Homo sapiens: one gene and its partners. The protein of the gene in region 1 purifies or fractionates together with the protein of each later gene. This does not show direct contact. Each region holds a gene or a part of one and is shown in the gene's direction. Other genes may lie near its edges.

The links. The genes of interacting proteins can lie anywhere in the genome.
Region 2: the proteins of SSU72 (region 1) and ACAT2 fractionate together in Homo sapiens (co-fractionation; one large-scale study listed by BioGRID). This does not show direct contact.
Region 3: the proteins of SSU72 (region 1) and CPSF2 purify together in Homo sapiens (affinity purification with mass spectrometry; one large-scale study listed by BioGRID and IntAct). This does not show direct contact.
Region 4: the proteins of SSU72 (region 1) and THOP1 fractionate together in Homo sapiens (co-fractionation; one large-scale study listed by BioGRID). This does not show direct contact.

The regions. Positions count from the first base shown.
Region 1 is NC_000001.11:1,567,226-1,572,572, reverse strand, and holds part of SSU72 (RNA polymerase II subunit A C-terminal domain phosphatase SSU72), read left to right. Parts: intron 1-5,347. UniProt on the Homo sapiens protein: Protein phosphatase that catalyzes the dephosphorylation of the C-terminal domain of RNA polymerase II. Plays a role in RNA processing and termination. Plays a role in pre-mRNA polyadenylation via its interaction with SYMPK.
Region 2 is NC_000006.12:159,775,545-159,779,044, forward strand, and holds part of ACAT2 (acetyl-CoA acetyltransferase, cytosolic), read left to right. Parts: intron 1-605; coding exon 606-728; intron 729-1,757; coding exon 1,758-1,912; intron 1,913-2,625; coding exon 2,626-2,736; intron 2,737-2,953; exon of another isoform or gene 2,954-3,114; coding exon 3,115-3,285; 3' UTR 3,286-3,500. UniProt on the Homo sapiens protein: Involved in the biosynthetic pathway of cholesterol.
Region 3 is NC_000014.9:92,131,969-92,135,468, forward strand, and holds part of CPSF2 (cleavage and polyadenylation specificity factor subunit 2), read left to right. Parts: intron 1-2,042; coding exon 2,043-2,202; intron 2,203-2,281; coding exon 2,282-2,387; intron 2,388-3,398; coding exon 3,399-3,500. UniProt on the Homo sapiens protein: Component of the cleavage and polyadenylation specificity factor (CPSF) complex that play a key role in pre-mRNA 3'-end formation, recognizing the AAUAAA signal sequence and interacting with poly(A) polymerase and other factors to bring about cleavage and poly(A) addition.
Region 4 is NC_000019.10:2,799,003-2,802,502, forward strand, and holds part of THOP1 (thimet oligopeptidase), read left to right. Parts: intron 1-686; coding exon 687-789; intron 790-3,028; exon of another isoform or gene 3,029-3,500. UniProt on the Homo sapiens protein: Involved in the metabolism of neuropeptides under 20 amino acid residues long. Involved in cytoplasmic peptide degradation. Able to degrade the amyloid-beta precursor protein and generate amyloidogenic fragments.

The DNA.
Region 1 (5,347 bases):
AGGCAGGAGAATGGCATGAACCCAGGAGGCGGAGCTTGCATTGAGCCGAGATCATGCCACTGCACTCCAGCCTGGGCGACAGAGCAAGACTCCATCTCAAATAAATACATAAATAAAATAAAGTTGGAGTAGAATATATATTTTTTTTCTTGAGGGGGAGTCTGTAGCCCAGGCTGGAGTGCAGTGGTGCTATCTCAGCTCACTGCAAGCTCCGCCTCCTGGGTTCACACTATTCTCCTGCCTCAGCCTCCTGAGTAGCTGGGACTACAGGCGCCCGCCACCACGCCCGGCTAATTTTTTTGTATTTTTAGTAGAGACGGGGTTTCACCATGTTAGCCAGGATGGTCTCGATCTCCTGACCTCGTGATCCGCCTGCGTGGGCCTCCCAAAGTGCTGGGATTATAGGCGTGAGCTACTGCGCCTGGCAAGATGGAGTAGAAATCTTAACAAAAGGAAATGTTTTAAAAATTCTATTTAGGGCTGGGCGCGGTGGCTCACGCCTGTAATCCCAGCACTTTGGGAGGCCGAGGCAGGTGGATCACGAGGTCAGGAGATCGAGACCATCTTGGCTAACATGGTGAAACCCCGTCTCTACAAAAAATACAAAAAAATGACCCCGGCATAGTGACGGGCGCCTGTAGTCCCAGCTGCTCAGGAGGCTGAGGCAGGAGAATGGCGTGAACCCGGGAAGCAGGAAGCAGAGCTTGCAGTGAGCTGAGATCCGGCCACTGCACTCCAGCCTGGGTGACAGAGCGAGACTCTGTCTCAAAAAAAAAAATTATTTAGCTATCTTGTTAATAAAATCAGGTTTAGCGGCTACTTTAAAGACATGCCAGTCATAACCTCGCTGAGACGATGACTGAAGATGACCAAGTCCTTTTTAGTTCAGAGTGGCCAGTGGCCGTTGCTGGCAGAGCTGTGGTCTCTGGAAAAGGAGCGGAGAGCACCTCTGAATAATGAATTCTTGGGTGTGCTTTTACCTGTGCCGCCATCATTCAAATTTACTCATAAAAGAGTAGACTCAGAAGAGAGTCAAAAGGAAGTAAATTTAAGGTGACATCTATTATGGATATCATGAATATGGATATCATGAAGTTAATTTAGACATAGACCTTCAATTTCCTTTTTTTTTTTTTTTGTTGAAGTCGGAGTCTCCCTCTGTCGCCCAGGCTGGAGTGCAATGACACGATCTTGGCTCACTGCAACCTCTGCATCCCAGGTTGAAGCGATTCTCCTTCAAACCCTCCGAGTAGCTGGGACTACAGGCGCCTGCCACCACTCCCAGCTAACTTTTTTTTTTTTTTTTTTTTTTTTTTTTTTTTTTTTTTGAGATGGAGTCTCACTCTGTCGCCCAGGCTGGAGTGCAGTGGCGCGATTTCAGCTCACTGCAACCTCCGCCTCCCGGGTTCATGCCATTCTCCTGCCTCAGCCTCCTGAGTAACTGGGACTACAGGCACCCGCTACCACGCCCGGCTAATTTTTGGTGCTTTTAGTAGAGTCAGGGTTTCACCGTGTTGGCCAGATGGCCTCGATCTCCTGACCTCGTGATCCGCCCGCCTCGGCCTCCCAAAGTGCTGGGATTACAGGCGTGAGCCACCGCGCCCGGCCAAATTTTTTGTATTTTTAGTAGAGATGGGGTTTGACTGTGTTGGCCAGGGTGGTCTCGATCTCCTGACCTCGTGATCTGCCCGCCTTGGCCTCCCAAAGTGCTGGGATTACAGGCGTGAGCCACCACGCCCAGCCTGCTTGTTGCAGAAATTCTTACTGTAGAAAATGAAAGTGGTCTCTCAGAGGTACCATTTTGGTGTCCGTCTGTCTCCATGTGTTCACGCATGCATCGGGGATAAGCTCTTGTTCTGTTGTCTGCTCCATAGTTAGTATTCACATCATTAGTTTCCTTTTTTTGCCACGAGATGGCTTATTTTCATTATTCATACAAATAATTTTCTATAATACCCCAGTCAAACGGGAGAATTTGGCAGTCCGATTTTGGGGTGGGGGGGGTCCCTGCAGAGACTCACAGACTGGTGGCATTGGCGCTGAGTGCCCAGGTTCACAGCACAGCTTGTGGCTTGTGTCCATCTTGCATGTGGCTCTTCCTCCATGTCATGACTGGGGTCTCGGGGGTAACGGGCAGGAAATCCTTCAGACTCTTAGGAAATTTCACTCCACTTCTCCTGGCCTCTGGTCGGCAGGGTGTTCTTCCATGTCTCGGTTTTCTAGCTTGGCCTTATTGAAGTTGGAATTTATGTCTGTTGTCATTTTCCCTTTTTTTTTTGTTTTTTTTTTCAAGCCAGAGTAAGGCTGGAGTGCAGTGGCGTGATCATAGCTCACCACTTCACCCTTGAATATCTGGGCTAAAACGATCCTCCTGCCTCAGCGCCCCAAAGCATTTGGATTACAGGTGTGAGGCACCGCACCCAGAGCATTTTTGCTTTTGAAAATTACCTGTTTATGTCCTTTGTCTATTGATTTGGGTTTATTTAGAGAGTTTTAATACTCAGAAACTCTGTGTGATAGTGCTTTTCTGTTACACTGGGAAAGCTTGTGAAAGTCAGATTTAGAGAGTCTTTTAGGCGTTAAAAATGATGTGAAAAGCGTAGGAAATGCTTATGGTAAGTGAAAAAAGCAGGAAAATTGTATGCAGTTGGGTAGGGCTACATAAAACTGCACAGGAAAGCTGAAATAAAATTGTCAGAAGGAATTGTAGTTAACTGAGCAGGCACAGTAGCTAGCTGATCAGTGAACCTCGCCCCTTTTAAAAATTTTGGGCCTGGCAAGGTGGCTCTTCGGCCTATAGTCCAGCACTTTGGGAGGCTGAGGGAGGAGGATTGCTTGAGCCCAGGAGTTTGAGCCCTGGGCAACACAGTGAGACCCGCTATCATTACAAAACATTTTAAAACTTAGCCACATGTGGTTGCACATGCCTGTCATTCTGGCTGCTTGGGAGACGGGGCAGCAAGATCACTTGAGCCCAAGAGGTTGAGGCTGTGGTGAGCTATGACTGTGAGCTGTGACTGCGCCACTGAACTCCTGGCTGGACGACAAACCAAGTCTCTGTCTCTAAAAACAGACACAGTAACAATTTCACCCTATTGAAAATCAGCGTGGACTCTATTTTCCTGATAAATCCAAGTGATAGTAAGTGTCGACATGTTAGCGTTCTCTGGGGTGATCATCTTTGGTGTTAGAGACTAAATTGTTTCAAATACCAGAGTCCTGGGAGTCCTCATGTTTCAGGGCAGCGCCAGAAGACTCCGCCGTACGTTTCCACAGAGCCTCCTGCGCTTGGTGCTCCAAGGATTAAAGTGTCCCCTTGGAACCAGTTAGGTTTTTTGTTTGTTTGTTTTGTGGCTTTTTGTTTTTGTTTTTTTGTTTTTTTCTTTTATTTTATTTTTTGAGACGGAGTCTCATTCTGTCGCCCAGGCTGGAGTGCAGTGGCAAGATCTCGGCTCACTGCAGCCTCTGCCTCCCGAGTTCAAGCGATTCTCCTGCCTCAGCCTCCTGCGTAGCTGGGACTACAGACATGCACCACCATGTCCAGCTAATTTTTTTGTATTTTTAGTAGAGACGGGGTTTCACCATGTTGGCCAGGCTGGTCTCAACCTCCTGACCTCAGGTGATCTGCCTGCCTTGGCTTCCCAAAGTGCTGGGATTACAGGCGTGAGCCACCGTGCCTGGCCTTATTTATTTATTTATTTTTACAGACAGGGTCTTACTGTGTTGCCCAGGCTGGTATTGAACTCCTGGCCTCCCAAGTAGCTGGGATTACAGGCATGAGCCACCACGCCTGGCTAGTTTTGTATTTTTAGTAGAGACGGGGTTTCTCCATGTTGGTCAGGCTAGTCTCAAACTCCCGACCTCAAGTGATCCGTCCTCCTCCGCCTCCCAAAGTGTTGGGATTACAGGCGTGAGCCACCATGCCCCGCCTGATGGCTTCTTTATGATAGTTTTTTGGAGTTTTTTTGAGACAGAGTCTCACTTTGTCACCCAGGCGGGAGTGCAGTGGCACCATCACGGGGCCCACTGCGACCTCCACCTCCCGGGTTCAAGCGATTCTCCAGCCTCAGCCTCCGGAGTAACTGGGATTACAGGCGCGCACCACCACGCCTGGCTTTTTTTATTTTTTTATTTTTTTTTTAAAGTAGAGACGGGGTTTTGTCATGTTGGCCAGGCTGGTCTCAAACTCCTGAGCTGAAGTGATCCACCTGCTTGGTCTCCCAAAGTGCTGGGATTACAAGCCCTCTGATAGATTTTTGGTACTTGTAAAGACAGTTGTTTGGCATACCAGACAAATACTTGTCTGGAAGATTAGTTTACAAAGGCGTTGGCCCTTCAGGCGAAGCCTGTTGGTGTCAGGAGTGTTTTCCAAGCTGTCCTTGCTTTTATGTAAGAAACGCTGTTGAGTCGCAAGCTGGCTGCCCTGTCGGTTGCATCAGTTTGGGAGAAATACTGCTTCTGTTGCTAAATAGCCTTTTTGCCATTCGTGAACCTTTTGTTGGGGGAAAAACAAACTGCATTTTGTTTTTAAATAGGCTAACTTAAAGGAACGTCCAGCAGGTGGTGAGTTCTTGTTGGTGTTGGGAGGCAGGCTGTCTCCTTTGGCTGCTGTGATCACGCTGATCCTGGGCTTCTTTGTGCGATTTTTTTTTTTTTTTTTGAAACAGAGTATCGCTCTGTTTCCCAGGCTGGAGTGCAATGGCGCGATCTCGGCTCACTGCAACCTCCGCTTCCGGGGTTCACGCAATTCTCCTGCCTCAGCCTCCCGAATAGCTGGGATTACAGGCGTGTGCCACCATGACTAATTTTTGTATTTTTAGTAGAGATAGGGTTTCACCATGTTGGCCAGGCTGTTGTCGAACTCCTGACCTCAAGTGAGCCACCGCGTCCGGCCCTTGTTTGTGCTTTGACGGAACATATTTTATTGTATGTTGTCTGAATTGGTAAGGAAGTCATTTTAGGCTTGTTGTTTCTCACGTGTGCTCCCTGTGGTATGCCTTGTGTCTGGGCCTCCGTCACCCTCTCAGTCACAACCAACAGTTGACTTTATTGCTTTAACCTCATGTTTCCGTCAGGATCTGTGGTTATGACTGAATGTCAGGAATTTTAATTTTAGCATTTTCACGTTTATTTCACAGTCCGGGTGCCGTGAACACGGGTTTGTAGTCATGAATCGCTGCTATTGTGCCACATTTCTGGCCGTGTGTGGTAGATGTTTGGAGAGCCGGGTTGTGTAGCTCGGAATATCTAGGGATGTAAGGACTGACGCAGCTGTCATCAGCCTCAGGGGACTCAGGTGTTTCACGTACACTAGATGAGCACATCTTCTCTGTGTGTGTGGGTGACG
Region 2 (3,500 bases), on another chromosome or scaffold:
ACTGTGCACACACAGCAGGTTTCATGAGAAGCTGGAGCACTGGCTCATGGTTGTTAGGAGGCACCAGCTGACCTGTTTCCTGTATAGGCTCAACCTCCTCAGAAGTGGACACCCATTACTTCTCGCTGTTTCTGTGTGATCTCCATTTCACATTTCTAAAGGGTGGATCTTTTGGGGTCACTCGCTATTTTCTAATACAGAATGCTCCCGTCAAGCTCCCTTATTGATAACTGATATCTCTTATGTCCTGCCAGCAGTGCACGATTGGCTTTGAGACTGCCTGATCCACTCACTCGTAACCAGCCAAGTACTATGACCCAAACTATAGCAGAATTTGGCACAAACAGGTCCCTGGTAGCTACTTTCCTCAGGAAGGCCTATGGATTTGGAAAACACAGGTGTCTCATAAGGACATACTCATAAATTGTTTTCATGTACAATAATTCTTGTGTGTACTTTCCTCCTGTTGTCATCAAAGTGGTCACATATTAAAACTTTTCTGCTAAATATGAATCCTCATGTTTAATGGCAGAGAACCCACCATTCCCAGCACACTTACTTCTGTCTCTGGACTAATCTTGAGTAATTGGTTTTCCTTTGCTTAGGTCTTATTGAAGTTAAAACAGATGAGTTTCCTCGCCATGGGAGCAACATAGAAGCCATGTCCAAGCTAAAGCCTTACTTTCTTACTGATGGAACGGGAACAGTCACCCCAGCCAATGCTTCAGGTTAGATTTTCTGAAGGACATCTGGGGGAATACTATGTTCTATAATGTCTACCGAGTGAATATTTTTCTCTTTATTTATATACAAAAGTACTATTTTTTGGGACAGGGACTCACTCTGCCAGCCAGGTTCGTGTGCAGCAATATGATCATTGCTCACTTGCAGCCTCAAACTCCTGGGCTCAAGTGAGCCCCCTGCCTTAACCTCCCAAGTAGCTGGGGGACTACAGGCATGAGCCACCACACCCAACTCAATATTTATGTACAAAATTATTCTTAAAACAGTTTAAGGAAACATGTCATTTCTCTGTATTTGATCATTGACTTAACCTATACTGAAAGAATTAATTTGGTTTCTTGACATCCCAACTAGACATACAAATGAAGAAGTAAATTAGGGAACTTCAGTTTATCTACCTTTGTATTTTTCCAGTACCAGAAACTCCCAATACCTCCTTGTGAAGCCCAGGCTTATTCTTCCATTTCCTGTCAGAGATCTCCCCTCCCCAACTGCTGTAATCCTTTTTTTTTCTTTTTGAGACGGAGCCTCACTCTGTCGCCCAGGCTGGAGTGCAGTGGTGCAATCTTGGCTCACTGCAATCTCCGCCTCCCAGGTTCAAGCAATTCTCCTGTCTCAGCCTCCTGAGTGGCTGGGACTACAGGCGCACACCACCACACCGGCTGATTTTTCTATTTTAAGTAGAGATGGCTTTCACCCTATTGGTCAGGCTGGTCTCAAACTCCTGACCTCAGGTGATTCACCCTCCTCCACCTCCCAAAGTGCTGGGATTACAGGCGTGAGCCACCACGCCCAGCCCCGACTACTGTAATCCTACCACTTTCTCTAGTTGGAAAGTTTTGTGGTCAATATATTGCCAAACATAATTTCTATGTAAAGTCTGTTGAATTATAGTAAATGCCTTAGCCAACAGGTAAAATCATTTAACTCATGTCTTCAGGTGGTAAAGAAGCCACAGATATGTAACTGAGGTTAATAAGCATGGTAGAAATTAAGTCACTCATATTTTACAGGAATAAATGATGGTGCTGCAGCTGTCGTTCTTATGAAGAAGTCAGAAGCTGATAAACGTGGGCTTACACCTTTAGCACGGATAGTTTCCTGGTCCCAAGTGGGTGTGGAGCCTTCCATTATGGGAATAGGACCAATTCCAGCCATAAAGCAAGCTGTGAGTATAACCCTATTCCCTTTTATGAAATTTGTCTTCCTGTTAGCCTTAAGTGAGCTTATTCATGTAGTTAGCTCTAGTCTTTCCCTACCAGAAGAGTAACCAAGAGCATTTATTTCTATTTTTGAGATAAGGTCTTGCTCTGTTGTCCAGGCTGGAGTGCAGTGGCACCATCATAGCTCACTGCAGCCTCAAAACTCCTAGGCTCAAATATTCCTCCTGCCTTAGCCTCCCATTACCTCGAACTACAGGTGCACCACGCCTTCTTCATTTCGTAGAGACAAGGTCTATGTCGCCCAGGCTGGTTTTGAACTCCTGAGTTCAATTGATCCTCTTGCCTTAGGCTCCCCAAGTGTTGAGATTTCAGGTGTGAGCCACTACCCCCAGCCACTGAGAGCATTTGGATCACATGCTTTCTAGGGGAACTGATTCTGTTACATTAGCCTTAGGTACACATAACAGATGCTACTGGTTCAAAATTTTAAGACAATTTAGAATTTCTAAGGGATCTTTTAGATCACACCCTTAACCTTTTGGATGGAATGGATGTCACTAAGGCAAAAATGTGTGAGAATGTCACTGTATTAACCTAAGAACAAACCAAAGTAGCAGTTACCAGTATCATGCAGCATATATTTATGTTGACAAAGAATGGTTTAACTTTAGCCTTTCCACCCAAGTTTAGACCTCTTTTCTATGAATCTTTCCTCTAGGTTACAAAAGCAGGTTGGTCACTGGAAGATGTTGACATATTTGAAATCAATGAAGCCTTTGCAGCTGTCTCTGCTGCAATAGTTAAAGAACTTGGATTAAACCCAGAGAAGGTAAAGATGCACAAGTAACCCTGAGAGCTTACCAGTGAATTTCACAATCCAATTTTAAGATAGTATCTTCTAGGTGTTGGCCATGTGGGTAATAGTTAAAGAAATACTAGTTACTAGGACTGAGTTCATTACTTCCCAAGGTTTAAAAAAAAAAAAAAAAAAAAAAAAAGACATTGGCTTACTTGGCATAAAAGGAACGAGGTAAGATAGGCAGGGATGAATTTTCACAAAGGTGTAAATTTATTCCTAAGCAGTTAAAATGAAAATTTGAGTTTGAAAGGGTAGCATGCTGATACATTAAGAGGAAAAAGACAAGTTTAAGATTTTAAACTGTGTCCACAGAAGAATAAACAATCTAAATCTTTTCTCCCCCGTTAGGTCAATATTGAAGGAGGGGCTATAGCCTTGGGCCACCCTCTTGGAGCATCTGGCTGTCGAATTCTTGTGACCCTGTTACACACACTGGAGAGAATGGGCAGAAGTCGTGGTGTTGCAGCCCTGTGCATTGGGGGTGGGATGGGAATAGCAATGTGTGTTCAGAGAGAATGAATTGCTTAAACTTTGAACAACCTCAATTTCTTTTTAAACTAATAAAGTACTAGGTTGCAATATGTGAAATCAGAGGACCAAAGTACAGATGGAAACCATTTCCTACATCACAAAAACCCAAGTTTACAGCTTGTACTTTACTTTAATGTGTAATACTCAACTCAAGGTACAAGACAATTGCATTTAACATTGTTATAAATAAAAGGAACATCAGA
Region 3 (3,500 bases), on another chromosome or scaffold:
TCTTGTGTTGATGAGAACATATGCTTCCCTGATTAACTGAAGTTTTACTATTCAATTAGCAAAACTGTCTGTGGTTACTATGCGAAAAAGCTGGGACAAAAATCCATTATAAGTATGTGGCCATATAAATATCCTCTCCTTAATAATTTCTGAAATTCTTCTCTTTTATTATTATTTTTTTTTGAGATGGAGTTTCACTTCTGTTGCCCAAGCTGGAGTGCAATGGCGTGCTTTTGGCTCACTGCAACTTCCGCCTCCAGGGTTCAAGTTATTCTCCTTCCTCAGCCTCCCAAGTAGCTGAGATTACAGGCATGCACCACCCGGCCGGCTAAGTTTTTGTATTTTTAGTAGAAACAGGGTTTCACCATATTAGCCAGACTGGTCCCGAACTCCTGACCTCAGGCGATCCACCTACCTCGGCCTCCCAAAGTGCTGGGATTACAGGCCTGAACCACCATGCCCAGCCAATAATAATTTCTGAAATTCTAAGCTGAGTTCTTGAACTTAAATTAATAGTTTGCGACCAGGCACAGTGGCTAATGCCGGTAATCCCAGCACTTTGGGAGGCCGAGGCGGGCAGATCACTTGAGGTCAGGAGTTCGAGACCAGCCTGACCAAGATGGTGAAACCCCATCTCTACTAAAATTACAAAGATTAGCCAGGCATGGTGGTGCATGCCTGTAATCCCAGCTACTCAGGAGGCTGAGGCAGGAGAATCACTTGAACCTGGGAGGCGGAGGTTGCAGTGAGCCAAGATCGCACCATTGCATTAGAGCTTGGGCAACAAGAGTGAAACTCCGTCTCAAAAAAAAAACAAAAAAAACAAAAAGAGTTAAGTGAGGCTGGGTGCGGTGGCTCATGCCTGCAATCCCAGCACTTTGGGAGGTGGAGGAGGGCAGATCACCTGAGGTCAGGAGTTTAAGACCAGCCTGGCCAACATGGTGAAAGTGTGTCTCTACTAAAAATAAAAAAATTAGCCAGGTGTGGTGGTAGACACCTGTAATCCCAGCTACTCAGGAGGCTGAGGCAGGAGAGTTGCTTGAACCGGGCGGTGGAGGTCGCAGTGAGCCGAGGTTGCGCCAGTGCACTCCAGCCTGGGCAACAGAGCGAGACTACATCTCCAAAAGAAAAAAAATAGTATGCAGGATAGCTATTAAAAATCAACTTATGGCCGGGCGTGGTGGCTCACCCCTGTAATCTCAGCACTTTGGGAGGCCGAGGTGGGCGGATCACCTGAGGTTGGGAGTTCGAGACCACCCTAACCAACATAGAGAAACCCCATCTCTACCAAAAATACAAAATAAGCTGGGAGTGGTGGCACATGCCTGTAATCCCAGCTACTCGGGAGGCTGAGGCAGGAGAATCGCTTGAACCTGGGAGGCAGAGGTTGTGGTGAGCCGGAGATTGCGTCATTGCACTCCAGCCTGGGCAACAAGAGCAAAACTCCATCTAAAAAAAGAAAATCAAGTTACTTGTGTCTACTGTTCTTTTTTGTTTTTGTTCTTGTTTTTATTTTTAGGCAGGGTCTCACTCTGTCACCCAGACTGGAGTGCAGTGGCATGATCTCATCAAGGTCAACCTCCTGTGCCCAAGTGATCCTCCCATGTCACCCCTCAAGTAGCTGGGACTACAGGCTCATGCCACCACCCCTGGCTTTTTTTTTTTTTTGTATTTTTTATAGAGAACGGTGTTTTGCCATGTTGCCCAGGCTGATCTTGAACTCCTGAGCTCAAACGATTTGCCTGCCTTGGCCTCCCTAAGTGCTGGGATTACAGGTGTGTGCCATCACACATGGCCTTCTTTTCTGTTTAAAATGTGTGTACACACCATATATTTAAGTGTACCTTATACCACATTTTTTGTAGCTATGGAGAGCACAGGTAGTAATAATTGAAATTCATAGGTAATCATAATTTTAGCTCTTAGTTTTGCTCTTCTGCCCCAGTGTAGTCTTCAATCCAGAATTGGTGAATAATTTTGAATATTCTGTCTTTACCCTTAAAAAGATTCAAGAAGTAGTCCTTTGGATTGTGTTCTTGTAGGCATGTTCACCAGATTGATGCAGTGCTGTTGTCTCACCCTGATCCTCTCCACCTTGGTGCCCTCCCGTATGCTGTCGGAAAGTTGGGTCTGAACTGTGCTATCTATGCAACCATTCCTGTTTATAAAATGGGACAGATGTTCATGTATGATCTTTATCAGGTAATTTAAGCAATTAAAAAAATTTTGTTAGCACTCCTTCAGTGATTGTTTTTCACCTTTATTTGTGTTATTCTTTTAGTCTCGACACAATACAGAAGATTTTACACTCTTTACATTAGATGATGTGGATGCAGCCTTTGATAAAATACAGCAGCTAAAATTCTCTCAGATTGTGAATTTGAAAGGTAAAAAGAATTTCCAGTAGTAAGTATTTAGATGAATGGGGTTTAACTTGCTGGAAAATACCGAGGAGAATTCAGAGAGAAAATTATAGGCATTATAGGCTGAAGAATAAAAAAGTTAGCACATTCTGCCTTGATACAGAACTCTTAACTTCCATTTGAATTTTAAAATATTTCAGAAAAAATGCTAACAGAATGTTAATAGCTCAGGCCTTTTCATATTTAACTTGGGAAAAACTCATTTAGTGTTTACTGTGTACAATAAACAAAAGATAATGTGGCCATTTCCTCTTCCTCAGAGCTTACAGTTAGATTGAGGCAACAAAGTAGCTGAGATGGCTAAATGTAGTGATTGGGGTAAATGAAGTGCTATGGCAGCAGAGTAGATAATGAATTCTAGCATTGGACGTTAAAAAGTTTATTATTGAATTAGGAAGTCCTATACTAAGTCTATATTTATCATCTACAGAGATAATTGTATTAGATATTTTCATAGATATGAACCCTGGCATTGATAAAATGGTGCAATAATGGACTCTGAAGATTTAGCCCAGAAATAACAACAGTCTCAACAGTTTTGCTTCTAGTTAATTTTTCTGCAGGATAAATTCTTTAGCACAATGAGATTTAAATTATTCTGTTAGTTTAGACGTTAGCAAAAATGGAAACATTTGGTAACTGTATATACAAAATACACATTAAAATTTGCTAGTTCATACTAAATAATTTAATAGTGTACTAGCTTTTAAATCTAATCTCTAGCCTTGTACTTATAAGCACAAATAACTCTACAAGATTACATAATATAGTAACAAGAATGTTTGCCTCTAGTGAGGGAGTGGAGTAGGTGGGGGACAGGAGAGTGAAGCCTGCTTTCACTATATGCATTTTTACTTTTGAAATTTGTATTATTGCATATACAGTATTACCTATTAAAATATTATAGTTGAGAAATAAATAACCTTTCTTTAGGGTTGTAAAAGAAATCTGAGTATTGTTATCTTGTTGACATAGGTAAAGGACATGGCCTGTCTATCACACCTCTGCCAGCTGGTCATATGATAGGTGGAACAATATGGAAAATAGTCAAAGATGGAGAAGAAGAAATTGTTTATG
Region 4 (3,500 bases), on another chromosome or scaffold:
AAAACCAGCTTTACCAGATAAGGGGTAAAATGTTCAAAAGCTGCCAGACACGGTGACTCATGCCTGTAATCCCAGCACTTTGGGAGGCTGAGGTGGGAGGATTGCTTGAGCCCAGGAGTTCGAAACCAGCCTGAGCAACATGGTGAAACCCCGTCTGTACCAAACATACAAAAATTAGCTGGGTGTAGTGGCGTGTACCTGTAGTCCTAGCTACTCAGGAGGCTAAGGCAGGAGGATCAATTGAGTTGGGAGGTTGAGGCTGCAGTGAGTCGAGATCATGCCACTGCATTCCAGCCTGGGCAACAGAGCGAGTCCCTGTCTCAGAAGAATGTTGAAAAGCTTAGGCTGCAGGCTCTGAAGGTGATTCCTTAATGGATAGGAGGGTCTGGAGCACTCTTGGCCAGGGCCACACCTGACAGACCGGAGCACATCCCTGAGGTTGCCCGAGGTCACCCAGCTTTGGATGCCGCAGCTGGTGTTGAAATCCACACTGCGCAGCCTCGTGGCCTCCGTGTCTGTCTGTCCTCCGCCTCCCGTCTCACTCTTTCCTCCTCGGTTGCCTCTTCTTTCGGCCTGGTTCTTGGGGAAATCCCTCAGCCCTCGGCGAGAGGGTTCCCAGGCGTTGCGTCTCCCCGCGGAGCCCGCCCCGGTCTCTCCCTCCCCTCACGCCCCGCCTTTCTCTCCAGAACATCAAACGCATCAAGAAGAAGCTGAGCCTTCTGTGCATCGACTTCAACAAGAACCTGAACGAGGACACGACCTTCCTGCCCTTCACGCTCCAGGAGCTAGGTAGGGGCCGAGCAGTGGGGCACGGGTGGCCATCGGTCCTGGGACTCAGTGCAGGCCTGCCAGGCCCTCGGGGGCCGCCGCTTCCTCCTGTGGGCTTCTGTGCTGAAGGGCGGCGGGAGGCCGAAGTACGTGGACCTGACCGCCCTGGGCTGAGGACTTTCCTCACCGGAAGCGCTCCAGGGCCGTTTACAGCCAAAAGCTCTGAGCCCTCCTTGGGGAGGGCCATGGTCTGTCCCACCAAGATTCCACCCTGATAGAAAATGTCCCTGGCAGTGGCGGAAGCCCAGGCCGGACGGGGTGGCCAAGGGTGCCAGTCTCAGCCATGGCCCTGAGGGAACCACAATTTTCCCTTGAGACCCCACTTCCTGCCTGCCTTTATTTATTTAATTTAATTAATTAATTAATTTATTTTGAGATGGAGTCTTGCTCTGTTGCCCAGGCTGGAGTGCAGTGGTGCGACCTCCACTCACTGCAACCTCCGTCCCCCGGGTTCAAGTGATTCTCCTGTCTCAGCCTCCTGAGTAGCTGGGACTACAGACGTATGCCATCACACCTGGCAAATTTTTTTATTTTTAGTAGAGACGGTTTCGCCGTGTTGGCCAGGGTGGTCTCAGACTCCTGGGCTCAGGATCTGCCTGCCTCAACCTCCCAAAGTTCTGGGATTACAGGCATGAGCCACCGTGCCCAGGCAGGCCGGAATATTCTGATGGGTGCTATAGAATATAACCTCCAGTTCTAGACTCTGAATGTAGTTGCCTCTGAGGTGGTGGGTGGGGACAAGGCCCTCATGGCCGGAGGCCTCCGCAGGTGGCTTGATGTGTGGTCACCTGGGCGTATGTTTCCTGAGGGAACACTCGCAGGTCGGGCACTGCCAAGCTTGGCTGCCAGCCACTTGCTCAGCCCTCCCGTGTCTCGGGCAGCACATCCTACCCTCAGCTTCTGGCACTCAGGAGAGACGACGGGCTACAATCTGCCGTAAAGCACGTTTCCCAGCCTGCCCCTCAGTGGGTGCACTGATCACCCGCACCATTCCCGCAGCCACCCACGCCATCCCGCGGCCACCCGCACCGTCCCCGCGGCCACCCGCACCATCCCCGTGGGGCTGCTTCTCCTGCCTGCTCGTGTTAGCAAGCAGAAGGACTCGGTGCCTGATGTTCTAGAAGCCAATGCCATGGCACCAAGGATTTGAGGAAACAAAAGCTTCTCATTGCAAGTGACTCCCAAGGAGACTGGGCGTCCAGCTCAAATCTGCCTCCTGTGCCAGCTTTCAGGCAGTACTTTCATGAGAGAAGGTGCAGAGGTGGATTCTGGGATTAGCAGGTGATTGTTGGAAGGAAAGGGGAGGTCTGGAAGGTCCTTGGGCACGCACAGTTATCTGTCCGTGCCAGCTCGTGGGTCCTGGGTGTGAATCCTGGGGAAGTCTGTATGAAGCGCGGTGGAAGTTCAGTTGGCATCAGCCAGCTGGTTCTGCACAGACTCTGCTGGCTCATGTGGGTTCCAGCCGGTTTCAGCCAGTTTTGTTCTTGTCGGCGTTTCAGCTGCCTGTTTCTTTTCACGTTTGCCATCCTGCAAACTCGAATGTTTGTGGATTTTGGTGTCTAACTCTTTGGGGTGCCGTTCCATTTGTCGGGCCTGAGGGGTCTCCCGTGCAGGTGGCTTGAGTCCCATGTGGCCAGGTGACACCGTCATGCGGGTGGCTAGCGTGTTGGGTGACAGTCTCCAGGGCTGTCCGCTGCTGCTGCCCCGGGACCTGTTTCCCTTTGTGGTCCGTCATTTCTCAGGAGACGCCTTGCGATGGTCTTAGTTCCTTTTCTTCTGCTTACAACAGAAAACCTAAGGCCATGTAGTTTATAAGAAAAGGAATTAACTTGTCACAGCTCTGGAGGCTGAGAAGTCCCAGGTCGAGGGGCCATATCTGGCCAGGGCCTTCTTCCTGGTGGGGACTCTGGAGCCCTGAGGCGGCCAGGGTGTCACATGGCAAGGGGAGGGGGCTAAGCGAGCCGGTTCCACCCAGGTCTCTCCTCCTCACAAAGCCCCAGGCCCTCTGCCACATTAACCCATCTGTCCCTTCATCCATGAATCCATGAATGGATTCATCCATTCCTGAAGGCAGAGGCCACATGACCCAGCTGCCTCTTGAAGGCCCCAGTACCTAATCCTGCCATCTCCCAATACCACCATCTCCAACACCGCCATCTCCCGATACCCACATCTCCCAATACCCACATCTCCCGATACCGCTACCTCTCAATACCGCCACCTCCCAACACTGCCATCTCCCGATACCCACATCTCCCAATACTGCTACCTCTCAATACCACCACCTCCAACACCACCATCTCCAACACTGCCACCTCCAACACCACCATCTCCAACACCGCCACCTCCAACACCGCCGTCTCCCGATACCTCCACCTCCGGACACCCCCACCTCCTGACCCACCCACCTCCCAACACCAACACCTCCCGACACACCCACCTCCCGACACCCCCACCTCCCAATACCAACACCTCCCGACACCCCCACTTCCCGACACCCCCACCTCCCGACACCAACACCTCCCAACACCAACACTTCCCCACACCCCCACCTCCCAACACTAACACCTCCTGACACCCCCACCTCCCGACACCCCCACCTCCCAACACCAACACCTCCCGACACCCCCACCTCCCGACACCAACACCTCCCGACACCAACACCTCCCGAC